Homo sapiens: one gene and its partner. The protein of the gene in region 1 interacts with the protein of each later gene in a biochemical or structural test. Each region holds a gene or a part of one and is shown in the gene's direction. Other genes may lie near its edges.

Region 1 (3,758 bases):
TGCTCCGTCCCTGACAGCTATTGTTGCAATTACTGTTATCAAAATTATGTCTTTTAACCTCAGAAGGTAAACATTTTTGAAAAAGAGTATGCCAAATTATTCTGCCCAAAAGAGAATTTCACCCTTTCCTGATGACTGAGTGAGTGTCTGCAAGCCTCCATGGTTATTCAGCCCTACCCTTGTAGGGTAGAGCCTTGGGGCCCAGGGATATTAGATGAACAATTTCTTCCCCTATGCTAGAAGTTCCCACACCTTATGAGATCTTAGGTCGCTTCTTAGAAATATTCTGTCTCTTGATTTGTTGGGACAGGAAGCTTCCCCAGTAAATGCTTCTTTTTTTGTTTGTGGTTTTTCGTTTTTGTTTTGTTTTTTTTTTTTTTTTTTTTTTTTTAAGAAAGGGTCTCACCCTGTTGCCCTGGCTGCAGTGCAGTGGCAAAATCATAGCCCACTGTAGCCTCGACACCCTGGGCTCAAGCCATCCTCCCACCTCAGCCTCCCAAGCAGCTGGGACTACAGGGACCCACCCCATGCTTGGCTTATTTCGTTTTGTTTTCATAGAGCCAGCGTCTCACTATGTTTGCACAGGCTGGTCTTGAGCTCCTGGCCTGAAGTGATCCTCCCACCTCAGCTTCCCAAAGTGCTGGGATTACAGGTGTGAGCCACTGCACCTGGCTTCAGTAAAACACTTCTCATCAGTTGTTGGCTGTTATAAACAGGCCCATTCTAAGTGCATGAAAAGTAGGAGTTACTAATGAGTGAGGCCTGAGACACAGTGGGATTACTGACAGCTGGGTTCTGGATAGACGGGGAAGATTGCCTGCTCTGCCCAGGCTGATATTGGAAGCTGTATTCCTGTGAAAACCTTTAGAGATTTTTTTTTTTTCCTGGGTGAGGCAGCTGTAATGTACTAAAGCAACAATATGTGAGTGGCAATTTAGGGTTTGTAAAGTGAAAATTTCACATGCATTGGGAGATGTGGACCTCTGGGAAATCAGGAGCTGATCTGATTCTTCGTCTCAACCTGGGCAAAATTATCAACCTCTCTGAGTTACAAAAACAGAAATTTTCTTAATGGCACCCACCTTTTCTGGTCTGAATCAAGTATAACAATGTAATAATAGATGCACAGGCCCAAGCACATAGTACACACTCAGTAAACAGCTGGGTCCTCCTGCCCCTCCCCAGGACAGGGCAGCAGGTCGAAGGGGAGGGGCGGGCGTCGGTTAATCCCTCCCTGCCAGGTCGGCCCAGGCAGCCTGAGGTCAGGAGGGATTTGTAAAGATAAGCACAGGCCCCTCGTTGCCCTGGCAACAGGCCCCGCCCCTCCAGCCTGGCCCGGGAAGGGGGGACAGCCCCTCCTCCGCCCTGCTGCCCTCCACACCCCGCCCCTCCTTGCCTCTCCTGTCTGGCCTGGGCTATCGTGGCCTCCTAGGCTCACTCCTGGAAGACAGAGACAACCTGAGGTCAGCGGTTCCCACACCTAAAAGTGAAAGGAATCCCCCAGGAGCAGGTTGCGATGCAGATTCTCAGGCTCAGGGCCCAGTGGTTCTAAATTTGGGGTCTGGAGTGGGTTCCAGGAATCTGTATTCTTAATGTGGGCCCGTGATTCCGGGAAGCTTGGAGTGAGGCCCTGGGTTTGGATTCCAGCCTCCCTTGGGCTGTGGACTGTGAGGCTGCTTCGAGTCTCCCTTTCCTGAGCTGTAAAACAGGCATCATAATCCTATCCACCTCGGAGGTAAATGCCAAGATCAACTGAGATGACACATGAAAGATGGCTGTCCCTCCCAGGCAGGACTGTGGCACTATTGCATGCCTCCCAGGACGGGCAGCTCCTTCCCTTCCTGCCTGGCTCTGACTGGAGAAATTCCTTCCTCCCATGGGGTTGGACTCTGTCTCCCGGGCTCTGTCATTTAGAGCCCATCTGCTCCCATGGTCCTGGGAAGATCCCTTGTGACAAGGCACCTCCCCCGCCCCCCAGGATCCTTTCCCCGGTGCTGCCTCCCCAGCGTGGTCCCAGCTGCTCTGAGATAGGGGGCAAAGCTTCAGATTGGATGGGCGGGGAGGGGGGGGGGTTCCTTGCACTGCACAGGTGAGGGACAGTGCTCTGTGGGAATTAAGTGAGGGACCTGTTGGCACAGGCGCTGGCAGCCGGGGCCCTTTACCATGGGTTATGAGTGCTGCACCCTCCTGAGCAGTGCTGGCCACACCCAGTCCCAGGGCTGTGCCCTGCATCACCTTGGTGAATCCTTTCAACACCTCCATGAGATGGGCACTTTTTGCACCCCAGATACAAACCAGGACTGCCCGATGCCCCAAACCTGTGCCCTTTCCTGGGGGAGCTGGAAGGATGCGGGTCAGGCCACAGGACAGCCCTGCCTGGAATGCGGATGACGCCTGAGAGGCTGCCAGCCTTATCTGGGGGGCTTCACCAGAGTGGGGGAGGGAAGGGTGCAGGGTCTGAGCTGTTCTGGGGTCTGGTGAGTGTCTAGATGACAACCTGGGTGGGGGAGGGGCACCTTTGGGAGCTCCGGATGGGGGTGGGGGGAGGAATGGAGGCTGTGTCTTCTGGAGGCTCTCCTCCCCCATCCCTTACCGAGTTGTTACCAAAAGCAGCCCTTGACTGCGGTGCTGGGGAGCTGAATAGTTCAGCATTTGATGAGGGGATTCTTTTATGATCTAATTTTCAGACTGGGAAACGGAGGCTCTGTAGGAGAAATGACTTACCCAGGGTCTCATAGCTAGGAACTTTCTGAGCTGAAATTGAACCCAGGTCTGTTTCACTTCAAAGCTCAAGTTCTCACCTGGGCATTGTGGTGACAAGGCTCTCAGGAAGGCAGGAGGAGAGGAAGGGGGATGAGGATCTCTGGGCGTGGCTTCCAAGCCGGTTGGTGACCCTCTGTTAGAGCCCCGGTGCTGGAAGCATCATGGTGGCCAGGGGCAGGTGTCCGTGAGCCATCTCAATACCTGCTCTGTACCATGCGACCTTGGCCAGGCCGGCCACTCAGGTGTTTGCTGATGGGGGATGAAATTAGGGCCAGGGACCCTCTAGAAGTTCCTAGGCCAGTGGCTGGCAGGGGGTGGGTAGTGATGTGGAGAAGGGGTAGGAATGAGACCAGCGGAGCACACGATCCCTGCTTTTGAAGTTGTCCACCCATCCTCCAGAGGTTGAGGTCGGGCCCATCTCCAGTTTCACCCAGGGATGGAGTTACCAGACCCCTGGCAGAAGAGGTGGAGGGGGCAGTGGGAGGAGCCTCACCCTCTGGGGCCTCCTTGGATGGATGGGGCCTGCAGGAGGGAGACCCCTCCCCAGGTGGAGCTGAAATAATCCAGATAGACCTTGAAGCCTGTCCCAGCGAACACTAACTTGCTGTGTGAAGTGGACAGGGCTGGGCAGGCTCAGCAAGCCTTCACTTTCTTTCCTGGGCCTCCTTTTGCTGTCTGGTGCAATGGGCATGACGGATACTGCCTCAAAGGGGGACTGCAGGGACAAGACAGTGGAGGGAAGCTCACGGGGCTCAGGGAACCTCTGCTCACTAATCCTGCCCAGAAGCCAGACATCCTTGGTGCTGTTTCTCTGCTATATAGGCTCTCCTAAAACCGTTCCCAGTTCTGGGTGCAGATGTGTGCAGCTTACTGGGACCTGGCTTGCAGACCCCTGGCCCTCTGTCCATACTGTGCATGCAGAGACCCACGTTGCTTTTGGGGTCTGGGGTGGGCCTGAGAGGGTGGGGAGGAGATTGTCCTTGTAACCTCTGCCC
Region 2 (3,758 bases), on another chromosome or scaffold:
CCAGGCCTGTGTTCACACTAGTTCTGTCCAGCCCCTCCCTGTGAGGCCAGCTCCAGCCCCAGCGCATGGTGACCATCCCGTTACCCATGGGCAGGATGCACTCCTCTCAGTGGCTGGCGAGGCGCAGCCTGGTGCGGGCGCCACGGGGTCGGGCTGTGATCGCCTGTGGCCTCCCTGCAGGGCTGTGACTCCCTGACGCAGATCCAGTGCGGCCAGCTGCAGAGCCGCAGGGCCCAGATTCACCAGCAGATTGACAAGGAGCTGCAGATGCGGACGGGCGCTGAGAACCTCTACAGGTCAGTGCTTGAGACTGCCCGGCCCCGGGAGCAGGGCCCACCTGGGTGAGGGGGGCAGGACAGCCACGCAGGCAGATGTCTGCCCCATGGCCGGGTCACAGAGACAGGTGCATGAGCAGCTGGGTCCTGGTGGGCACGTAGTACACGTGATGCTCAGCCATGACCCTCACAGACCTGCCTCCGTGGGCCTCTGTGCTGGGCTGGAGGTGCCAGGAAACCAGTGTCCCTGCCGGGTGTGCAGCTTGGGAAGCCCCAACAGTGCACGTGGGGGCTTCTCAGAAGAGGCATGGTTGAGGCTGAGCTGTGGCAGGTGATGGCGCGTCCCAAGGTTGGGGACCTGGGAGGGGGTGGAAGACCTGGGCTGCCTCTTCCTTAGAGCACACCGCCTGTGTGCCACACATGTGCGTGTGAGTGCCCCTCGGTCCCCTTAGCACCTGCTACCTCCCTGCCCCCATCCTGGCCTTCCCTGGGGACCTCCGGTCCCTTTGCCAGGCCCTGATGCAGGCACAGAGAGGTGTGTGGCTCTCACCCACCATCCAAGGAGTGATGTTTGAGTGCTGTCGAGGGCTGTATGAGCCCCAAAGAAAGCCGTGGTGCTGAGGGAGGTGCCCCCAGGCCAGAGTCGGAACATGCAGGTGCTGGGGTCGGGGTGATGAACTGTAGGGGGCATCACCTGTGAGCCCCCGGATCCCACTGCTGCCCCTGCCCCACCCATGGGGGGCAGACCCTGTCAGCGACGTCCTCTGCAGGGTGGGCTTGGAGCTTTGACAGGTCAGCTGGCAGGACGGCTGCAGTGGGCACGGGGCCTTTGGCTCTGCCTTGGGGCTGGGCTTTCAACTGCCGCGGCCTCCCTCAGAGCCACCAGCAACAACCGGGTGAGAGAGACGGTCGCCCTGGAGCTGAGCTACGTCAACTCCAACCTGCAGCTGCTGAAGGAGGAGCTGGAGGAGCTCAGCGGTGGCGTGGACCCTGGCCGGCATGGGAGGTGCGGGTGGGGGCCGGGACAGCACGTGCGTGTATGTGTGTGCACGTGTGCGTGTGTGTGTGCATGTGTGTGCACGCATGTGTGTCTCTGTGTGTATATGTGTGCATTGTCTGTGTGTGTGCGTGTGTGCATGTGTGTGCATGCATGTCTGTGCGCGTGTGTCTGTGTGCATGTGTCTGTGCATCTCTGTGTGTGTGCGTGTGTCTCTGTGTGTATATGTGTGTGCATGTGTGTGCATGCGTCTGTGTGCGCGTGTGTCTGTGTGTCTGCATGTGTCTGTGTGTGCATCTCTGTGCGTGTGTCTGTGTGCACGTGTCTGCGTGCGTGTGCATGTCTGCGTGTATGTGGGTGTGTGTTTGCCTCTATGTGTGCGTGTATGCACGTGTGTCTGTGTGTGTCTGTGTGTGCGCGTGTGTGTGTCTGCACGTGTGTGCATATATGTGTGTGCGTGCGCATGTGTGTCTGCATGTGTATGCACGCATGTGTTTGTGTGTGTGTGTGCGCGCGCATGTGTGTGTCTCTGTGTGTGTGTGTTTGCTTTTGGGGCGGTTTAGGACGGTGGGGGGTGGTGCACAGGTGCAAGGATGCCCCCCAGGACACAGGCGCACGTGCACACCCATGAGGGAGGGAGGCACCCTGTGCCACAGAGCCCTAGGAGTGGACCCCGGGCTGCCGTGGGCAGCAGGGTTTGGCCTTACAGTCTGAAGTCGATGCTTCTGGTTACAGCGAAGCTGTCACTGTCCCCATGATCCCCCTGGGCCTGAAGGAGACCAAGGAGCTGGACTGGTCTACACCGCTGAAGGTAGGTACTGGCCTCCAAGCTCTGAGATACACGGCCCTGCCCTGGGACCAAGGGGGTCTTGGAGGCTTTCTGGTCCAGCTGTCTGGTTGAACAGATAGGGAAACTGAGGCCCAGAGGGAGGGAGGCTTAAAAGGGACGCAAGGGACCTGGCAGAAATGGCCACAGGGACCCAGCCTCTGCTGCGTTCAGGGCCCCGCTGGTGCCTGCGCCCCAGGCCGGGGCTGATCCCATAGAGTGGGTGTGAACATGTGCCCTACCCTCGGATGGGCAATGCCCTAGGAGGATGGGGCCTGGAAGCCCCAGCCGGAGCACAGGGTACAGGCTCGCCCATGGAGGGCACCACTGGCTTGGGGCCACACACCCAGCACTGGCTCACGAGGGTCCTGGGGAGAGCTAGAACAGACTGGCACTGCCTGGCAGGGCCCCACGGGAGCCACTGACTGTGTTCCGTGTCCGAGTCACTGAGTGGCAGATGGCACCTGCCTCCCGGCCACGGGGATGAATAAGGAAACGCACGTAAAAGTAGCGCTGAGTCTCCAGGCCCCGCTTCTGTGATGGGGTGGGGAAACCCCAGGGCCACAGGGGCTCCGACCCGCATCAACCCACCAGGCCCCTCCATACACATTGGCCCCCAGCCCTTCTCTGGGGCTTCCACTGAGGGGCCCAGGGCCCCCACGCTGCATGGCAGCCAGCCTGCTCTGCGGCACAGACCCTCCCTCCACCATGAGTCTTTTCCCAAGGTGGGTTGGGAGACCTCAGGGAAGGAGGCCAGGCACAGGGGTACTGTGGATGCCAACACCTGCCCCCCATCAGGAGCTGATCTCAGTGCACTTTGGAGAGGACGGCGCCTCCTACGAGGCAGAAATCAGGGAGCTGGAGGCCCTGCGGCAGGTGTGTGGTTCCCCCGCCCACCCACCCTCCTGCAGCCCTGGGAGACACATGCGGAGGCTGAAGCTGAAGTCAGGAACAGACAGAGGAGCTCAGCGTAGACATCTCGAGGACGTGGGGAGACGGGCGCACCAGGGGCCCTGTGTGTCCAGACCCAGCCAGGGGGCGTGGAGGGGCTCCCAGGTGGCTCCGGTGCCGCATGCTGCTGGCCTTCGGGAGTCACGGCTGCCCAGGGCCCCACTGGCTTTGCCTCCCCGCCCCCCATGGTGCTGGTGCCCATGGGACTTCCCAGGGCAGTGTGTGTGAGTGGGGTGGGCCAGGGCGGTGGGGCCCAGTGGCTCCTGCCCTGCAGGCCATGCGGACCCCCAGCCGGAATGAGTCGGGCCTGGAGCTGCTCACAGCCTATTACAACCAGCTGTGCTTCCTGGATGCGCGCTTCCTCACCCCTGCCAGGAGCCTCGGGCTCTTCTTCCACTGGTAGGGGCTCTGCGGGCGGAGGCACCCTGGGGAGGGGAGGCCCAGCTGCGGGAACCGTGGGAACTCCACCCAGCCTGACCCAACACTGCAGGTACGACTCGCTTACTGGGGTCCCGGCCCAGCAGCGTGCCCTGGCCTTCGAGAAGGGCAGCGTTCTCTTCAACATCGGTGCCCTCCACACGCAGATTGGGGCGCGCCAGGACCGCTCCTGCACCGAGGGTGCCCGCCGCGCTATGGAGGCCTTCCAGAGGGCCGCTGGTGAGGGCGGCCCGGGCCGCGGTGGGGCACGGCGCGGTGCCAGGGTGTTGCA

What was found. Proteins that work in one complex are often made in the same cells at the same time.
Region 2: the proteins of CRB2 (region 1) and RHPN1 interact in a test that uses a peptide from one of them, tested with the Homo sapiens proteins (one large-scale study listed by IntAct).

The regions. Positions count from the first base shown.
Region 1 is NC_000009.12:123,359,076-123,362,833, forward strand, and holds part of CRB2 (protein crumbs homolog 2 precursor), read left to right. Parts: intron 1-3,758. UniProt on the Homo sapiens protein: Apical polarity protein that plays a central role during the epithelial-to-mesenchymal transition (EMT) at gastrulation, when newly specified mesodermal cells move inside the embryo.
Region 2 is NC_000008.11:143,375,373-143,379,130, forward strand, and holds part of RHPN1 (rhophilin-1), read left to right. Parts: intron 1-180; coding exon 181-296; intron 297-1,152; coding exon 1,153-1,281; intron 1,282-2,007; coding exon 2,008-2,083; intron 2,084-2,896; coding exon 2,897-2,974; intron 2,975-3,323; coding exon 3,324-3,448; intron 3,449-3,539; coding exon 3,540-3,706; intron 3,707-3,758. UniProt on the Homo sapiens protein: Has no enzymatic activity. May serve as a target for Rho, and interact with some cytoskeletal component upon Rho binding or relay a Rho signal to other molecules.